Linked DNA regions of Homo sapiens: region 2 is linked to region 1. Evidence: fine-mapped expression QTL. Tissue or cell type: fibroblasts. Region 1 holds a variant in brackets; the other region holds the start of a gene. All regions are shown on one strand. Distances are from middle to middle.

Region 1 (10,694 bases):
GAATTGTATTGCCTCTAGGTTTATCTATCTTGAATTCTAAGCATAACTGGGAAATGAGTTAAAAATTCCATATAAAGATTTGGCTTTTCTTTGACCAATAATGCAGTGGAATGCAGAAGTGGGAGGTACAGGTAGAAAGAGAGAGAGGAAATGCATTTTCCCTGGTGCAGAGTAACCTTCTGGTTCTGTTAAAGTTAAAAAAAAATTACTAGCTATTCTGTGTTAAAAGTAGCCTTAAATTTTTTAAATTACTATGATATTGAGGCTGAGCACAGTGGCTCATGCCTGTAATCCCAGCACTTTGGGAGGCCAAGGCAGGCGGATCACCTGAGGTCAGGAGTTCGATACCAGCCTGGCCAACGTGGTGAAACCCCATCTCTACTAAAAATACAAAAATTAGCCAAGTATGGTGGCAGGTGCCTGTAATCCCAGCTAGTTGGGAGGCCGAGGCGGAAGAATCTCTTGAACCTGGGAGGCGGAGTTTGCAGTGAGCCGAGATCGCACCACTGTACTCCAGCCTGGGGGACTGAGCAAGACTCTGTCTCAAAAATAAATAAATAAATAAATAAATAAATACATAAATAAATAAATAAAATAAATCACTGTGATATTGGACAAACATTATCATAAAAATTTATTTTTTAATAAAGAACAAAACCACATTATCATATAAGTCTGGCAAATCTGCTTTGATTTTTTCTAGATTGAGTTATTGGATCTCTGTTAAACTGTTATTAGATAGAACAAATATATGCATTATACTATTATCTTCTTTTCCCCTGGGCCCTTCTATTTAATTAGGACAAGGTAACTTGAAAACATGTAAAGTACTGTCATCAAAAACATATATCTACTGAATGCCTCCCCTTACCCTCATTGGCCAAGTGTCATATTAGGTATACTGAAGATACAAAGATCCTTGCCTTCTGGGACTTTACATTTTAGTGTCAGAGACAGAAGAGATGTATGAGAAAATAAACACAGAAGAAAGAGCAGATGCTATGAATCCCCATGACACATCTGTTTTCAAATGAGAAACAGCATAAACAATGTGAAGGCTGAATTCCACACATCATTCTCGGGTCCAATTTATTTGCCAACTCTAGGAAAGATAAACTCAGATATTATTGTGATATTCACACAACTATCACCATGAAGAACAGATTTTCTGATTCAAGGAGAAGGAAAAAAACAGCTTTCTCTTCTTGAGAACTGAATTATTCTTCCCTCTTAACACTTCTGTGAATTTTTCCTGCTAAATATAACAGCCAAAACAAGGGGCCTGAAGCCCAATTTGGTTGCATTGCAAGACAAATAACATCCATACTAATAACAGCAGCTATAATGTATTGAACCCCTATTGTAATAGGCTCCATGTTAAGCATATTTACATATATCTTCTCATTCAAACATCATAACAATCCTGGAAGAAACGTGCTATGATGCCCTTTGAGTAAAAGACCAGAAGGATTAAGTAAAATGACCAAGTATTATGCATAAACCATGGCTGGGCAGGATTTGCACCCAGGTCCATCCATCTAAAAACCCGTTTCTTTTCATTACCTCAGAAGAGAAGTGGTTATTCCATTTCCCTAGGATGAGTAATTCCTCTGTGAAGGAAATACCAACATTCTTTCAATGCTTATCTACAGAGGAGGGTGGAGGAGGAACGGATAAGGTGGAAAAAGTCAGTGAGGATTAGGAATGACATCCCAAGGCTGAATCACTTATCCATTTATTTAATCAAACAAGTTTATATTGAAGGCCAAATAGGTGCTGGATACAGGAGACTGGACTGTAAAATAGAGATGCATCATGCCACTCAGGGAGCTACAGTCTCATGGAGAAGACAGACCAAGAAGACAAGCACGTCAAATAAGGAAACAAACAGGGCACCCAAATAGGGAATCATGGGAGGTGGTGGTGGCCCGCTTTGAATACCACTGTTGCTGTTTACTTTCCAGCTTTCTCTAAGGAAGTGACATATAAGCTGAGCCTGAAAGATGAAGAGGAGCAGATTGTATGCAGAGCAGAGGGAAGAGCAAGCTGATGGAGGTGACTAATCAGAGGGCCTGATGGTCAAGTGCTCAAGGTGGAGTTAAAGGAAACCCTGCTTTCTTGACATCACCAGCTGCTCAGAAGCCTTCAGCAGGCATCCTAGACCTTCTCCTTCTCTAAGGGATGGGCCTCACCTACTTTCTTCAGCTGAGACCTGGCACAGACCCTTGGAGCTTCTAAGGACCCCATTGTAGCCTTGGGGTGGAGGCCCATGGCACCACTGCCCTCTCCCTGGGATAAAGGTCCTGGGGCCACTTCTCAGGGCTGTGTCCCTCTATCAGGAGGTAATTGTCTCTCCCAAATCACCTTCTTCTTCTTCCTTTTTCTTCACCCCATTAAAAAAAGGGTACAGAATACCTTTCTTTTTTCTTTTTTTTTCTTTTTTTTTTGAGACAGTCTGTCACTCCATCACCCAGGCTGGAGTGTGGTGGCGTGATCTCTGCTCACTGCAACCTCTGCCTCCCAGGTTCAAGCAATTCTCATGCCTCAGCCTTCCAAGCAGTTGGAATTACAAGTGCGCATCACCACACCCGGCTAATTTTTGTATTTTTAGTAGAGATGGGGTTTCGCCATGTTGACCGAGGTCTCGAACTCCTGACCTAAAGTGATCAGCCTGCCTTGGCCTCCCAAAGTGCTGGGAATACAGGAGTTAGTCACTGTGCCTGGCCCCTTTCCTTTTGTTCTGTAAGAGCTCAGCCAACATCTAACATGTATGCATTCGGTCATTCATAGACAAGAATTTCAGCTTGGAACCAAAATGCTTGGATTTATATGTCAGCTATTTGCCTCTACAGCTCAGTCTACTTACTGGCTCTGCGACCTCGGGCAAGTTGCTTAATTGCTGTATGCTTCAGCTTAATCATTTGTAAAACAAGTTTCCACTCTTTAGGTTTTCCAAAGAAATCAGATGTGTAAATCTATAGAAGACGTTTAAAGAACTGTTCCTGGCAACTTAAAAATGTTTGTTATTGTTACCCTTTTTTCCTTATTATTATTATATGGCCAGTGACCTAGTCTAGGCAGTGGTTATATCAAGACAAATCAAACAGTTTCTAGCTAAAGTCCCCGGACTGGCAGGGCAGGGGTGGGGGTTCAACCCAGTTATCCCTAATCAGTGTGACCCATGCTATAGTGAAGGTGTGCGAAGTCATGGAAACACAGAAGAGGGGGCAGTTTCTTGTGTTGAAAGGATGAGTTGAAGTTTTTCCAGGTGAAGTATGGGGAAAGGGAAAACAGGAGGCAGAGAAGGCCTTCTAGGCAGCAAGAATGCACTGTGCAAAGGCTGAGGCATGTGAAGAAACAAGATGTGGGGTGACTGAAGGAGCCATGTGGGCTTGGTGAAGAAAAAAAAGGTGGTGTCCAGATTCCTATGCCAGGGAATCTGAGTCCCAAAAGTGAAGGAGAGACATAAATGTCTGAGCAGGTTAGAAACAGAATGAGGGCTGGGGCGTGGTGGCTTACGCCTGTAATCCAAGCACTTTGGGAAGCTGAGATGGGCAGATCACCTGAAGTCAGGAGTTCAAGACCAGCCTGGCCAACATGGTGAAACCCCCATCTCTCTACTAAAAATACAAAAATTAGCTGAGTGTGGTGATGCACACCTGGGATCCCAGCTACTCAGGAGGCTGAGACAGGAGAATTGCTTGAATCTGGGAGGTGGAGGTTGCAGTTAGCTGAGACTGCACCACTGCACCCCAGCCTGGGCAACAGAGCAAGACTCTGTCTCAGAAAAAAAAAAAAGAAAAGAAAAGAAAAGGAAAGGAAAAAAGGAAAGGAGAGGAAAAAAGGAAATAAAAGAAACGAAAAGAAACAGAATGTACCTCTGAGTTCTGTCCACAGGAGGCTGGGAGAGGAACAACTCACTACAGCTACATCAATTCAGCTACATTGTATCCCTAGTGTTATGTGTATATATAATGCTATGTATATGTATATATAATGCTATGGCCTAGCCTTGCCTGAGGATGTCCTCACCAATTTTAACATTGTTTCTATTTGAAATATATATTTTTTTAATTTCCAAACAGCCTACCGGCAACCAAACTCTTGGAAAACAGCTTGTTCTTAAAATGAGGTTCTCCAGCAGTGTAATGTGGTCATGAACCTCTAGATTTTAGTTAAAAAACAGGCCAGATGCGGTGGCTCATGCTTGTAATCCCAGCACTTTGGGAGGCCGAGGCGGGAGAATCATTTGAGCCCAGGAATTCGAGACCAGCCTAGGCAACATAGTGCGACCTCATCTCTAAAAAAAATTTTACAATTACCTAGGTATGGTGGCACATGCCTGTGGTCCCAGCTACTGAGGAGGCTGAGGTTGCAGGATTGCTTGAGTCTAGGAGGTCGAGGTTGCAGTGGGCTGTGATCATACCACTGCACTCCAGCCTGGGTGACAGAGGGAGACCTTGTGTCCAAAAACAAACAAAAAACCCCAAAACCATAACCTCTGAAGGATTGAGGGGAAAAAATCAAAGCAACATTGTCTTATTCTGATGTGATCAGTAGGTTAATCAGAAACCTTGTCCTAAAATCTGTGTTATTTTAGATTCCTTTCCATCTTTCATCCTCAAATTGTGAAATTAGCATGATACAGTTATTCATTCTGAGAGCTGTCCGCGGAACATGTATTGATTGAGCCTGTGTGCCACGCATTCTGCTAAGCCCTTTATGCATATTATTTAGTCTTTACAACCCTCTAAAGTTGGTATTCTTTTTTTTTTTTTTTTTTGATACAGGGTCTCACTTTGTCACCCCACCTGGAGTGTAGTGGCGCAATCTCAGTTCACTGCAGCCTCCGCCTCCCAAGTCAAGCGACTCTCCTGCCTCAGCCTCCTGAGTAGCTGGGATTACAGGCATGCACCACCACACCTGGCTAATTTTTGTATTTTTAGTAGACGCAGGGTTTCGCTATGTTGTCTAGGCTGTTCGCAAACTCCTGACTTCAAGTGATCCACCTACCTCACCCTCCCAAAATGCTGGGATTACTGGCGCCTTGCCTAAAGTTGGTATTCTAATTTTCAAATAAGGAAATTGGAGCTCAGAAGGTTATCCGATTTTACCAGGGACACACAGTTGACAAGCAGCAGAATCAGAGATGGAACTCAGATCTGTGCATGTCCAAAGTTAGTGCACTCAACCACTTCCCTGTATGCTTCTATGGATCAATCAACATTGAAACAATTTTTTCTTGGTCTCCAGCCTTTAAAAACAAGTCTCTTTAAGCTGAGTAACTGACTTAAAGTAATAGGTGCATGGAATCGGTGCTATTTGTCCAAACTGCTCCCATCTCTTCCACACTGATCTTGTTCAAGTTCTCAAACATGACAATATTTTCTGGATGCTTTTCAAATATATCATTTTACATGTTCGAAATCTCTTAATACCACTCAGGAGTGAGTAAATATTAGCAGCCATTAGTTATGGAGTAGTAAACTGAGCTAGAAATAAGATGAATGACAAGTTCTAGAACGTAACAGCGGTGGGAGGTGTCTCAGCAAAGCAGCAATGGAGCCAATAAAGGTTTATGGACTCATAAGTCCACAGTAAGAAATGTCCTACATGCAGTGTAGGACTCAGGAAGTTGAGACCTCAGAGTGCTTGCTTGGTTTTGAACTCCATATCACGGAACCATAAATACATACATAGTCATATGCATGAGTCCTCAGGTTCTAGTAACTGATTCACAAACTCTTCCTGGAAGTCCTTTGGTAATAAATATCAGAATTA[C/T]GAGCAATGTGTTTTCTAAGTCAGAACAACACACTGTATCCAATTAGTCTCAGCGAAGTCCCAGTAAAGGAATTTCATCCAATCTGACTCAGAACAACACGGTGGTGACATCAGGTCCAATACAGACCCTGCAGAGAAAATGAATGGGTGGGGATAGACTGAGCACATGTGCACTTTTCTGGGTCCCTCCTCTGCGGCGCAGGCCACAGGCAGTCCTTTCTAGTAAAGCCTGTGTGAAACCCTGGTGGTGAAGGAGTCTTATCTTGACAGCTTCCGCTGTATCACAACATTCACAACAGTATGTCAGTAAAAGGCAAAAAGAAACAACCCAATTATATTGAACCACAGATGTGTAGATGTGTACACAGATGTTCCCCCCCATCCCCACTCCAAAAAAGGAAGTTCCCCGGATGTCTTGCTCCGTAGCAATTGTCACATGCATTTTAAAGAAATTCAGCATCTTTGTGTCACATTCTCAAGATAGTTTCAAATTAACGTTTGACTACTTGAGAGGCTGAAGTGGGAGGATTGATTGAGGCTAGGAGTTCAAAGCCAGCCTGGGCAACATAGTGAGACCCCCATTTCCAAAAAAAAAATAAAAGAGTAAAAAAACAGTTATCTTCGGCATTGGAGTCAATGGGGTGTATGGCTAAATATCAGAAACACCACACTTCCTTAGCTAACTTTACTTAGAGATATTTGTTCTGATTCAAGCTTTGTTCTTTTATTCCCTTTTATTTATGAATTTATGAAGAGCACAGATACCATTTACATATTTGTTTTTAATGTATTTTCAAAATTCTGACTGAAAAGTAAAAACCCCTTGCCTCCAATTTGCTTCAGTTTGTTGGGCAAAAATAGGTCTCCTTTTCATCACTGCTTACACAAACCATTTTATTAATAATTTATCACAATGTTCCACAGCAGAGATAAAGCAGACACCCACATGATCATTATGTGTTCATAATGTGGGCTCTGCAGTGTCTTAAATTTCCCTGCACCTGCTGTTACCTGCTCGCTCCCTTCTCTCTAAGGTTTGCATTTGCTGTGATGCTGATAAGCTTTAGCGCCACACTTTTCACTGCCTGGATAGGTAACTGTTGACTAGGAAAAGCAGACACAGGTTGCATCATGTGTTGCCACGATCTTATTTTCACCCTCCTTGAACTAACTGCAGTCAAGAGAATTTGCCCTACAGATGGGTGAGAGTTTTCACAGTGCCCTGGGATCCTCCAATTCTTGGGTCCTTAGTCTTCCTCGCCAGCCTCCCCACTCCCCTCACACACAGTTCTTTCTTTGCTCTGCTTCTGAAGACATTTGAACCTGTTCTAAATCCCTCCCCTTCCTTCCATAAAGAGAGCTTCCTTAGATCATTTTTCTCAGCCTTTCTCTGCTTGCTGAATTTAAACCTTGGCACAAAGGTCACAGGCAGACAGAAGGCACTTTGCTGAATAACTTGTGTTTGAACTTCTAGAACAGTTACTTTGGGTTTTTTTAAGGTACTCATGTCATGTTTGGCAGTGAAACGTTCAGTGTTGCAAAAAATAAAAATGTCAACTTGCAAAATCTTTCTCCTTCAACTCTACATCCGTAGAGAAAAATAAAAGATGTATAATGCCTTTCACCCAAGAATGCTGAAATCATTAATAAGCATCAAGTAAATTATTCTGAGATGTAATTGATGACAAAGATCGAAATCTTCGAACCAAAGGTTTCACAAGTACTATTATTTACAATGAAAAATGTGAGACCTGCATACCAGCCCTGTACACGATAGCATTTGGTAAATAACGACTGACTGTTGATGATATTCACAGAAAGTCAGTGACTGACTAGCAAAGAAGGGAGTGACATGTACCAATGTACCAGAAGAAGGAAGCAAGGCTTAATCTACGTCAGGCCTTTTTGCTATTTCTCGTAGACCCCAGGGAATACATATGTCCTTCCTCTGGTCTGTGCAGTGATGCTGCACAATTAGAGGAAACGCTGAGCATCGGAAGCCAGGCTTTCTCCCAACAAACCCAGAACCCCCAACAACACACCGCCTAGTCCCAGCTTCTCAGAAGCACATGCTATGAAGCTCTCTATGCTGCTGAACATTCCCAGGATGACAGAAACACAGAACCTGGGGAGGGTCCCTGGTTCTCTGGGGAGGTGTCTCTTCTCTTCAGTCCCCTTCTTCTAATGGGGTTAGGATAAATGAAGGGGACTGGTGAATTGCTCTACAGCCTATTTGCCATGTTAACAAAGTAGGCTACCTAGCCCCTCAGAGCTTGTAAGCTGAGAATAGTGTTTTCCTGATTTGGCTGATATAAAGGTCTGCATAACAGTAACAAGTTGTGTGGATCCCTCCAGATTCACACTTTACCCTTCTTTCCCCATTCCCTTCCCTTCCCTTCCCTTCCCTTCCTCTTTCTTTCTTTCTTTCCTTCCTTCCTTCCTTACTTCTTTTTAGTCTTTCTTTTTTAATTGAGATAAGGTTTCACTATGTTGCCCAGGCTGGTCTCACACTCCTGAGCTCAAGTGATCCTCCCACCTTGACCTCCCAAAGTGCTGAGATTGCAGGTGTGAGCCACCATGTCTGCTCCCCCCACCCCCCCCTTTTTTTTTTAGAAACAAGGTCTCACTCTGTCTCCCATTCAGAGCAAGTACAATGGCACAATGCTAGCTCACTGAGCCTCAAATTCCTGGGCTCAATCAATTATCCTGCCTCAGCCTTCCAAGTAGCTGAGACTACAAATGTGTACCACCACACTAGTTAATTTTCAAATTATTTTTTGGAGAGGTGGAGTCTCACTGTGTTGCCTAGGCTGGTCTCACACTCCTGGCTTCAAGTGATCCTCCCACTTTGGCTTCCCAAAGTACTGGGATTACAGGTGTGAGCCACCTCACTTGGTTGTTTTACCCTTTTTGATAAGTGCTATGTCTTGGGAGGTTGACCCATATGAATGGCTTCAACAAGTTCTCTTGCCACCTGACTTTCTATGGGATATGCCCATGGAGGCACCAGAGGATGATCAGAGTTGAGAGAAGAGGGAGATTCAGAAATTTACTCTCCAAGCTCCTTCCTTGCCAGGTTAAATGTATCTCCCAAAAGTTCATGTGTTGGAAATTTAATTATCAATGTAACAATATTAAAAGGTGGAACTTTTAATAGTTGATTGGGTCATGAGGGCAGAGCCCTTATGAATGGATTAATGCTGTTAATGCAGGAATTAGCTAGTTCTACTGAGACCAGATTATTACAAAAACAAGCTTGACTCAGTCTTGTGATCTCTTTTGCACATGCTCACTTGCCCTTTTGCTTTTGTGGCATGTTACAATGTGGTACTAAAGCCCTTGCCAGAAGCTGCTGCCATGCCCTTGGATTTCCCAGCCTCCAGAACCATGAGCCAAATAAATGTCTTTTCTTTATGAACTACTCAGTCTCAAGTATTCTGTTATAGCAACAGAAAACAAAGACAGAAAACAGGTACCAAGAAGTGAAGTTGTTGCTAGAATAAATATCTGAAAATGTGGAAGTGGCTATGGGATTGGGTAATGGGTAGATGCTGAAAGAATCTGGAGAAACAGGCAGTGGGTCAGCTGCTTCATGCACAGAAGCCTACAAAAGAAGCCTTCTTCTTCTTCTTTTTTTTTTTTTTTTGAGACCGAGTTTTGCTCTTGTTGCCCAGGCTGGATGCAATGGCACAATCTTGGCTTACCACAACCTCTGCCTTCTGGGTTCAACCAATTCTCCTGCCTCAGCCTCCCAAGTAGCTGGGATTACAGGCATGTGCCACCATGCTTGGCTAATTTTGTATTTTTAGTAGAGACTGGGTTTCTCCACATTGATCAGGCTTGTCTTGAACTCCTGACCTCAGGTGATCCACCCGCCTTGGCCTCCCAAAGTGTTGGGATTACAGACGTGAGCCACTGTGCCCAGCCCACAGGCAGCCTTCTTCTAAACAGCTACCCTCACTCCTGTCAGCACTAGGGTCCCACTCCTCCTCGCCCTGGGGTGCTATGCCATCCTTTGTGGTTTCCTTAAACCCTACCCACACTTTGTAAACCGTTTCTTTGTTGAATTCTCATCAAATTACCAAGAGGAAATATGGAATATCTTTTCTACCAGGACTTTGAATGATGCATATGTGAAACAGCTGGCTATATACTAGAGGCTCAGGAAATGGCAATGATGTTACTGACTCTGTAATTTAGGTTAGCTTCATAATGTATTTTAAGCAGCCCTGTTTCTTCTTTGCAAAAGGAAATATCCTGCAAAAAATATAGTTCTGCATCTGTATCTACAAAGTAGTTTGAAAGTGGAATTCATGAATGAATTCAGTCAAATAGCCACTATACTGAAGAGGGTAGATTGTTCATATATAGCCAACTTTCATCAGGCTAGATATGACCTCAAAAACTGAAATCAGATTTGGAAAAATCAGAGGCCTTGGGACCATGAATCAGTCTTGCTTCCTAGAGGATGGGTACAGGCTTACCTCCTGGAAAAAAGAACATTTATTCTAACAATCTGTTAGCAGGCCTGCAGTGGTTCTCAAAGTGCAGGTCCCAGCATCATCTGGGAACACATTAGAAACGGAAACTCTCTAGCCCCATCCCCAAGCCTGCAGAATCAGAAGCTCATGGGTTGCAGCCCAGTAATATGTGTTTTAACAGACCCTCCAGAGGACTCTGATGCACACTAAAATTTCAGAACTACTTCACCTGAGGGGTTTCTGGAAGTAGACAAAAGCCAACTTTCAGGAGTCTAGGTAAGCATTTGGCATCAGATGACCTAACAAGCAGTAAAGAATTCAAGAGCTGGTCAATTCGTAAACAAAGAACTTTGTTTGCTTTGGGGAAACTCTGTCATTAGGGAATAGGAACAGGACCTCTGTGTATGGTTCAGAGAAGGACTCTAGTACCTG
Region 2 (10,694 bases), 100 kb after region 1:
ACATTTCCTCTGATATATGCATCCATTAAGTGAAAAAAGATCTAATTTGGTAAAACCAAAAAATTTCAAATTTTTTTAAAAAGGGACTTTTGGCCAGGCTTGGTGGCTCACACCTATAATCCCGGAACTTTAGGAGGCCAAGGCGGGCAGATCGCTTGAGCTCAGGAGTTTGAGACCAGCCTGGGCAACATGGTGGAACCCCATCTCTACAAAAACTACAAAAGTTAGCTGGGCATGGTGACACGCACCTGTAATCTCAGCTACTCGGGAGGCAGAGGTGGAATGATCGCTTGAGCCCAGGAGGTTGAGGCTGCAGTGAGTCATGATCACACCACTGCATTCCAGCCTGGGTGACAGAGAGAGACCCTTTCTCAAAAAAGCAAATAAAATAAAATTAAAAAGGGTCTTTTGCATGTACAAAAACAAACCCATAATCCCCAGCAGGGTTTCCTAATTCTTCATTAAATACATCACTACCACTGTGGCTGGAGTTTTAAGCATATGATCGAGTCACTCAGGCCAAAAAGGAATGTAAAACATTTCTCATGAGGTGATGTATTTTTATCCCTTTCTCCTTAGGGACATTTGTCACTAAACAGATACTTTATTGTTTGTTATCTTTTGTGTATTCTGGGGTGCTATCGAAAAAAATTACATTCCATTCAACAACTAAATGTATCACACAAAAACACTTTAATCTATGGGAAGATAGACTTTCTAAAAAGTATTACAGTGGCATATGCCTCTTGCTTTAGTGAAACAAAGAAATGTAGAGTTATTTATTACTTTGCAAAACCCTTTCAAATATAATTTGGTACTGACAATTCCTTTAGGAGGTAGGTGAAGAAGCATTTTATTATTATTATTTTACAGATGAAGAAACTGAGGCTTAGTGCGTTGAGGGAACTTGTTGAAGGTTGCACAATTAGGGAATGGAAGTGAGGTAGAAGATGTTCCAAATCAATACAGCAGTCTTTCCACCGCAGGTACATATTGGTAGTTAGTCCTACCTAGCTACTTTATTTTATTCTTTGTGTGACAGCCTAAACAATATTGTTGGGAGGAAAAGTAGGTATACCACAAAAAAATCAAATAGAGGTTCAAGGGATTCTTTTTGTTTGTTTGTTTATTTATTTATTTATTTTGAGAGAGTCTTGCTCTGTTGCCCAGGCTAAAGTGCAGTGGAACAACCATGTCTCACTGCAGCCTCAACTTCCCAGGGTCAAGCAATCCTTCCACCTAAGCCTCCTAAACAGCTGGACCACAGGCATGCATCACCACACCACCTATTTTTTTTCCTTTTTGTAGAAATGGGGCTTTGCTATGTTGCCAGGCTGGTCTCAAACTCCTGGGCTCAAGTTATCCTCCTACCTCGGCCTCCCAAATTGTTGGCATTATAGGCATGAGCCACTGTGCCTGGCCCAAGGGATTATTTTTAACATTGGGATTTTCCATCAAAAAGAAGTGTCATCCCAGGGCTACAGTGTCATTGAGGCTTAAAGAGGAAATGGTGAGGAGTGAGGTCGTTTGCTCTTACTGGAGCTCAGCATATTGGCTATCATGGGAGAGAGCTTAATGACTGAAGAATCTTAAAGGTATTTAATGATTCCTGCAAATGGTCTGGTGCCAGGGTCACTGATGTCAGCTATACTTACTTTTGTATTTAATTCGTTTGAAAACCATTTGTTGAGTGCTAGCATGGCCCAGGCACTCCGCTGTGTGCTGGTGCTACAAAAATAAATAAGTGTGTTTTATGGGAACAAGAAGTGAGTTAATTAATTAAATTAAGTTTGATTTATAAACAAGATGTTGCATGAGTCCAGAGTTTTTTTTTTTATTATTATAAGCAGGAGCCTGTGCTCCTTTATAGGTATCAACAGTGGACCTGTCAAAGGAAACATTTAGTAAACAGTAGTCACTCTGGGCTTACCTGAGGGCAGCTTTACTTATGAAAATAGAGGTCAGAGTGAGATGAAAGATGCCTTCTTTTCCTGAATAACCAACACAGTGCAGTTAATGCATTTCTCTATTATTGCACCAATCAAAAGATAATCCAAAATAATTGGCTGTCAGATATAGTCAGAATCCCTGCCCTATACTTCTCTTCCTTCATCTGACTGACCTACTCATTCTTTAAGGCCATGCACTAACATCATCCCTTTAGGTAAATTTCCTGGACCTCTCTTACCCATCCAGCCCCACCCTTCCCCCCTCCAAATTAAGGCAGGGTTGATGCATACACACCACACACACACACACACACACACACACACACACACACACAGAGTAGTACACTCTTATCCATGGGGGATACATTCCAAGACCCCCCCCATGGATGCGTGAAACTTCAGATAGTACCAAACTCCATATACATTATGTTTTTTCCTGTACATACATACCTATAATAAAGTTTAATTTATAAATCAAGCACAGTAAGAGATTAACAACAATAGTAGAATAATTTTAACAATGTACGATAATAAAAATGATGTGACTGTGGTCTCTCTCTGTGTCTCTAAAAGTATCGTATTGTACTCACTGATTTTCAGACCATTGTTGACCTTAGGTAACTGAAACTGTGGAAGGTAAAACCTCAGATAAGGGAGGACTACTGTATATAGTATTCTTACCACACTGTATATTTCTCTACTAGGCTGTGAGTTCCTTGGTGACAAAAACCAGTGACACTTACATGCACTGGACCTTCCATAGGATCTAGCATAGACCAAGTGACAGTGGCAGCATCTTCAAGAGGTGGCATGGAGTGAGGGAAAAGATAGCATTTAGCTTGTCTTCTCCTCCCTCATAATCTCTATTAACCACCCGCCTGCACCCCAAATGAACATACATCCTACATGAAACCAGGGTATTAGTCCGTTCTCACACTGCTAATAAAGACATAGTGAGATGGGTAATTTATACAGGAAAGAGGTTTAATTGACTCACAGTTCAGCATGGCTGGGGAGGCCTCAGGAAACTTACAATCAGAGCAGAAGGGGAAGCAAACACATTCTTCTTCACATGGCATCAGGAAGGGGAAGTGCTGAGCAAAAGGGAGAAAAGCCCCTTATAAAACCATCAGATCTCATGAGAAATCACTCACTGTGGGAACTACAATTCAAGACGAGATTTGGGTGGGGACACAGCCAAATGATATCAACCAGTATGCATGCTAGGCCAATGTGGGATTAAGCAAAGCCCCAGCACCTCCTTCCTAGCAGAGTGCTTAAAGGTCCCCTCCTGTATATTACTCAAATTCAATAAATGTCTGTTAAAACACTTTTGGGGGAGTGGCAATGGGACGAAAAAGAAAGAACTTGAATGACCATCATTTTTTAAAATGAGGTCCATTGAGGTATAATTTACATGCAGCAAAAGTTTCCCTTTTCCTATATAAAATTTGATGAGTTCTGACAAATGCATAGTTATGTAACCACCACCATCATCATGATAGAGAACACTTCCATCGTCTCAAAATAATTCCCTTTGAACTACCATAATTTTAAATGAACTCTTTAGAAGAACCACAAAAACTTATCAATGTTGTAGATTACATAACATATACTTGCATCTTGGACAACTTAACATATCTCTCCAAAATGAATAGTTGTTTTCCCTTGGTTATCATGCCATCATTTAGTTGTATTGCATTTTCTTTTTGGAAACCTCAAGGCATTTAGCAAACAGGATTTCATGTTTATTCCCAAAAACTCTGGCCCAACTGTAGAGATTTATAGTCCAATTCAATGAAACCCATGCATTTCTTTCCCAGTTTAACCTGATGTTTCTCTTCTTACCAGAGACTTCCATGTAAATACTTTAACAATGTTAGGTGTGTTATATATAATGAGGTCATAATCAGTTTCAAATTAGCATTGCGCCTTTCACTTATTTATCAATTATATTCCCTTGTGATGATTATGAAAAGGCTCCACATCCTGAGGACACTTGTCAGAGTTAGATTTATTAATGGAATGAAATAGCAAATAATGAATGACTAAATAAATGAATGAGTGAATGAATGAATGAGTGGCTGCCTCCATTTTATGGATGAGGCAGTGTCCGAAAGGCACAGTGAGGTCAGGTGATGGCAGAAAGCCACACACCGATGTTGGTGGCTTTCTGCCAGGTCAGATGCCAAGTTTATTTTCTTTGCTTTCTTGCTTTACTATCAACTAATCTTTAAAATCATTCCCATAAAATATCAACATTAAAGAATAAAAATGGAAAAATAAGCCACATACAATTAAATGGCTTTTTTAAAAGGAGCTCAGTGTGCAAAGGATAACATGAGTAAGGATTTTTTGGGAAATTTTTCACCTAATAGGAAGAATGCTTTACTCTTTTATTTATCAAACCTTCCTCATCATTAAATGGATTCAGTAGTACTTTTTGGTAATAACTCGTGTGTGTGTGTATGTGTGTAATAAAGTACTTTGTATATGTTCATTGTGTTCTTTTTTTAATAAGCTGTTTTAATGAAAAAGACACAATTACCGTCACCATTGCCCACTATATAATGACAAGTAGGGGAGGGGAGGCTAAAAGAGCTTCTACATAGTGAGAGATCTTCCATTGTTATACCTACGCTTGCACTTTATTTCATTTTCTTCCACGTTTGGACAGGTCGAGATTAAATGTGATTACATTTCCGTTGAGAGGCTTTTATTCAGCAACAGGATTCAAAAGAATGTCAATGAGCATAAAATAAAAACGGTGTGCAATTTATATGAAACTCTGATTTAAATGGTCCTAACCAAAAAAAAAAAAAAAGAAAGAAAGAAAAGAAGCTATTTAAAGTAACCCTCCCAAGGGGAGTCAACTGCTCTTCAGTGTGCCCTGAGCCGGCTGTGCCTTCTCTCCATCCGCTGCTCAGATATTCATGAACCGTTGCTTCTTCCAGCCTCGCCTTCTCGCTCCCTCTGCCTTTCTGGCGCTGTTCTCCCTCCCTCCCTCTGGCTTCTGCTCTTTCTTACTCCTTCTCTCAGCTGCTTAACTACAGCTCCCACTGGAACTTGCACAATCAAAAACAACTCTCCTCTCTCAAGCCGCCTCCAGGAGCGCATCACCTGGAGAAGAGCGACTCGCTCCCCGCGCCGGCCGCGGAAGAGCAGCCAGGTAGCTGGGGGCGGGGAGGCGTACCCTTCTCCCGCTCGGTAAGAGCCACAGCATCTCCCCGGAGATTGGCCGTATCCCACCGTCCGGCCCCCAGGGTCCTGCAGCGGTGATGCATATGTTTCGGAGCAATGATGGAAGGAGAAAAGCCGCTGTCGGTGGCAACTGAAAGTGGGGAGAGGTTGCTGCAGTAGCTGGTGCTGCAGAATGCGCGAGTGAAGAACTGAGCCCCGCTAGATTCTCCATCCCGCTCAGTCTTCATTAACTGTCTGCAGGAGGTAAACCGGGGAAACAGATATGCACTAACCAGGCGGGTGCCAACCTGGATCTATAACTGTGAATTCCCCACGGTGGAAAATGGTAAACAAAGACATGAATGGATTCCCAGTCAAGAAATGCTCAGCCTTCCAATTTTTTAAGAAGCGGGTAAGGACAGGTTTTGCTTATTTCTTTTGTTTTCTGTGCTTCTCTTAAATGCTTTTGAATGTTTGCCTGAAGTAAGCCTGAGGTTTTGTTGCTAAACCCTTAATGTAAGCCGTGCTTCTGATGGCAGTGGTAAAGCTGAGAACTATACCTGACTTGATTAGAATTTGTTGGAGGAGGGGCAGGGGGCTATGAAGAGTTGCATTGGGAGGAGGGGGTTGGGCTGAGATGCCTTAAACGGGTTTGAGCTGGGAATGGGGATTTTTCTCTCTCAAGCCACAACAAAGATTACAAGGCAGTCGCAAAGAGAACTGGCTTGAGTACAATTATGGCTAGTAATTTAGTCAGGGGCTAATTTAGCAGCTTCCTCTCATCTTTGAAGGGTTCAACTTTTCTACACCTTTCATCCACTCAGTCTCAAGTGATGCATTATCATCTTCGTTCGTCAGAAGCAGCAGCTTCTGGTTTCCCAAATCCATTCAGCCAATAATTTGCTGTGTCTCTATCTGTGGTATAAATAGCAAAGGAGTAGAATGACCTTTTACAGAAATGATGGAATCCAGCATTTAAAATTGTCTATTTTAAGTTGCCTCAATTTTTGCTTTTGCTTAGAATAACTGCCTTTTTTTTTTTTTTTTTTTTTTTTTTTTTGGGAGAGAGCAGTGGGAGGTCTGTATTTGAGTGATAATTCAGGGTTATGTTGCTGTATGCATTTATTTCTTAAACTCCTTATTCTTCAACTCAAAGTATGAATAATGTTGCATTGGTTGTAGGTGAGAAAAAAGGATTTTTTTGCATGTATATTTCACAATAAACTCAGTTCACTGGGATGGCCACACTGGTGGTCTGTGTAAATCTGCAAATTTATACACAAGCGGGAGGTAAGAAATGAATGATTGTTAAAGGAATGACACTGACACTCTTAAGGACAGTGTTTCCTAAGCAACGTAAGAGAAGGAACATCCTCCAGTCCCCAGTTGCCCCATCCTATTTAATACCCTAGGGCAATTCCACCAAAATGGTTCTCTCCATTCATTCCTCCTTCCTTTCATTCAGGTCCTTTCTGTGCCACTCCTGAAACACAGCCCTTCAGTTAACTCATCCGCAGAACACAGTGAATTTCAGGGTGGGCTGGACTATCTCCCTGCACCAAATGGGCAAGCTGGGAAGGCAAGGCTAGAAATGCAGGCAACATGTCAGGCCCAGCTAGAGGGCCAGCGAAGGCTCCCAAGCACCCTTGACTGAGTTCTCATCAGTAAAGCAAAATCTTTCTCCAAGTCTGTGGGCCAAAGCATATGCATTCAAACCAAAATGAAACCAACCTGTCCTGGCCCCTGCTCTTGGAGTGGGAGTACCATGTGAAATCTCACTAGTGAGCTGCAAGCTAAGTGAAAGCAAGTCAGTGCAACTTCACAGAGCTCCACAAGGCTTCTTAGTTTTTCTCTGTAGCTAAAATATTTCTTTCCAAGGGAAGAGCCCTTTATGAAAATTAATTTTCTTTCTTTCTTTTTCTTTTTTTTAGAGACGGGGTCTTGCTATATTGCCCAGGGTGGTCTTGACCTTTTGGGCTCAAGTGGTCCTCCTGCCTCAGCCTCCCAAATTGCTGGGATTACAGATGTCCACCACCAGGCCCAGCCCTAATTTTCAATAATAAACAAATGTTTTGCTAATTTTAAAAATGCCATAGCCCATTATCCAGTATTTAAACTCTATTGCCTTTTAATTACTGTATTTATTTCATGGTATTGGGGATATTCTAAAACTCCTCAGTCAGATGTTCTTAAGCAATGTAGATTTAAGTTACATAAATTTTAAATTGTCTTTTATTTTCTTTGTTATCAAAATGTACTAATAGAAATACTAATTTGCCATTTGGTTTTGTTTTGCTTAAAAGCAAGTTTACCAATAGACTTCAGTTGGTGACTCTGCAGACCTTGAATTTTGCAGAGAACCACCCAGGGTACTGATGTCTTATCTGAGTACATGCAGAAAGAAGTTTCTACCAAGATAACTGGCAGGCAGCTTCATCTAACTTCTAACCTGGGTCTATCAGTTGCTGGAGACAGGATCAGACATCTCTCCTGCCCCTGCGCTCTCCTTACTCCTCAAGGACAGTTAACTAAGTAGAAGGTGACCTTGTATCAAGTCATTGAATGCCCCAGGGATAAATTCTTTGATTTTTGTCTACTTTGGTTTATTCCACAAATTCTGTATTCTAAATGTTTATTTCTGCTTGTACATGACTTTGCTTTTTTTGTTTGTTTGTTTTTAGTTAAACAATATGTAAATACATCTATAAAACATTAAAACAATAATAAGGTATATCCCACCTCCTCTCCAATCTTTCTCCCTTTCCCAGATGTAGTAACTGTTACCATACTGATGTTTATACTTTCCAAACTTTTACTTCACATACACATTCATATACTACAATGCCTTTGTTTGCAGTTCAGAATAATTCATTTTCTTATATTCTATTGTTGAAGTTCCACACATTTCTGCATATTTTATTTTTAACCTAGCTAGACAGTCTTACAAAGTGAACCTTTGTCCATAGCCCACATTAAACTATGAATAGATTTTGGAAAAAAAAAAAAAAAAACCATAGGGTCTATTAGGGCTAATTAAAAAGAATGATTTTTGATTGCAGGAGGCTTAAACAGTGCTTCCTATGCTTCTGAGACATTCCAGAGGGAGCATAAGAAACTGAAGGAGAATATAGGTTATCTGCCCTTGTAGCTGTCTGTCAGTCACTATTTATTAGAGCTGACTATGTTCTGGGTAGGAATGCTTTACATGTATTAGCTCATTTAATATTCACAGTAACCCTATAAGGTAAGAAACATTATTAAATGTGCAAAGTGTGACTTAGAGAGATTAAACCATTCGCCCAAGGTCACATAACTAAAAAGTAGCAGAGCTAAAATTTAAACCTTGTTCAACTCAAAGCTTGTATACGTAATCCAGACTTTTTGATTTCAGACCACTCTCCCCTTCTTTTCTTTTAGTTTCCACAACAGACTCTTCTGTCCCCCTACCCCCCTCCCCCAACCAAGTGAAATCTTTATGCCACTACCAAAAACCTATAAAAGCGGCCAAGCCTCTTCCAGCTCCTTTCTAGTCCTTAATACTGACAGTAATGAGAGGCTGCCCTGGGGAACCCAGATTCTAGGAACATAATCTGAAGAAAGACAGTCCGGATGCTAGTTCTACAAAATCCTTTGGATTTATGCTTCTCATCCTCATATTTTAAAAGCTCAACTAAAGCAGCTTAATTTCATTTAGCAGAGAATTGCTGAACTAAACTGGATAAGAGTTCTACTTTCATTCTTTAAGTGTTCATGATAAATTAGCATTAGATGTATATGGATTATATTTTACTCTTAAGAGTCTCCAAAAATTCATTTAAGATGAATGGAAAAATGTCCTTATCAGTTTTATTCTCCCAATCCAAGAGTTTTAAAAGTTGTCAGTCCAGCTAAAGGTAATCCATTTTCATGGATTTAAAGATTTGTTCTGTTTGTGGCTCAGATTCTTACATAATGATTTAGAAAACGCAAACAAATGACATTGTCTCCAACTCGATAATCCTTTTTGGAAATACACAAGGTATGTGAAAAAAACTTCCATAGCCATGATTACATTACCTTTTGTAAAATTCGAAAGGCTATCTAACGCTGCAGAATTTTGGATGTGGAATGAACCTCAGAAATTCTCCCTCTGACTTCCCTCTTTCAAAGATGAGGAAACTGAGTACCTGTGGTAAATCACCTGTCAAATTAGAATGAGGTTAAGCCAGGACTCATGTTTTGGGTTTTCACTTCCAGATCTCGTGTGCTTTCCTTTTTGCTAAGTTCTCAACATCAAACTAGTCAAGTCTTTCATGCCTCATTCATTCATTTTTCAACAAATAGAGTAGGAACAAAATAACCATGTTTTATCTTCATGAAACTAACGGCATAGTGACTACCAACTTTGACAAGACCGTTCCATTTTGACTCTGTATTTTTGTTGTTGTTATTTTTGTTTGTTTGTTTGGTTGGTTGGTTGTTTGCAGAGACAAGGTCTCACTATGTTGCCCTGGCTGGTCTCGAGTTTCTGGGCTCAAGGGAGCGTCCCAAAGTGTTGACATTTCAGGTGTGAGCCACCCACTGTGCCCAGCCTTGACTCTCTATTTTATGATTATATGCATTTGAACAATTCCTTGCATTATTCTTTAATAACAGTAGCTTTTCTAATAACTATGACTTAAATGGCATTAATATTGCTGGGCATGGTTCTAAGAGCTTTAAGTACATTACACATTTAAATCATCATACACAGGCTGGGCGCGTTGGCTCACGCCTGTAATGCCAGAACTTTGGGAGGGTTAGGCAGGCAGATCACTTAAAGTCAGGAGTTCGAGACCAACCTGGCCAACGTGGTGAAACCCTGTCTCTACTAAAAATACAAAAATGAACCAGGTGTGATGGCAGGCGCCCATAATCCCAGCTACTCAGGAGGCTGAAGCAGGAGAATCGCTTGAACCAGGGAGGCGGAGGTTGTAGTGAGCTGAGGTCTCGCCACTGCACTCCAGCTGGGATGACAGAGTGAGACTCCATCTCAAGGAAAAAAAAAAATTATCATATATAAAAATACCTGAGATAGGTACTTTTATTATTGTGATTTCATAGATGAAGAAACTGAGGTGTACAGAAGTTGAAGAACTTGCCCCAAGTCACATAGCTAGTTAGTGACAGGATCAGGGTTTGGATCCCAGCACCAGGCTCCAGAGTCTGTGTCCTTAATCTCTATACATCCCGAATGCCTGTCAACATTAAATAATCCAGGGTGAAGTTCAGAGAAGTGAAATGATATGACTTCTCTGGCCTCCTCCTTTCTCTAATAACTGCAGGAACAAAGGAAAGGTTTTTAGTCTGGTTACAATGTTTACTCTAGCAGAGCTGAGAAGTTAAATTAAGCTCCTCTGAAGTGCTTATTCTTCACAACTATTTCATAAACAGCATCCCTTTACATTTGTTTTCCTTTTACTGTTCTATTTTGCCTGCTTAAAGTATCCAAATTGGAATAACAAAGGCCCTTTTCTTATGGGAAACTTTCGATGTCTTCTCAGAGGGATAACATTATTGAGCAGCACCGTTCAAAGCACTTTACTC

Evidence for each region. PIP is the estimated chance that this variant, and not a neighbour inherited with it, causes the effect.
Region 2: it holds the start of SGK1, and the variant in region 1 is fine-mapped to the expression of SGK1 in fibroblasts (GTEx, PIP 0.96).

The regions. Positions count from the first base shown.
Region 1 is chr6:134,412,038-134,422,731 of GRCh38, reverse strand. No RefSeq gene overlaps it. Among named protein-coding and RNA genes, the nearest start is that of LINC01010, 20 kb to the left of the region's middle. The variant C/T (reference allele first, on the strand shown) is at 5,782.
Region 2 is chr6:134,312,239-134,322,932 of GRCh38, reverse strand. SGK1 (serum/glucocorticoid regulated kinase 1) reads left to right here and starts at 4,821. Exons shown (of 14, transcript NM_001143676.3): 1 at 4,821-5,541. The coding sequence starts at 5,473. RefSeq lists an enhancer at 4,994-5,273.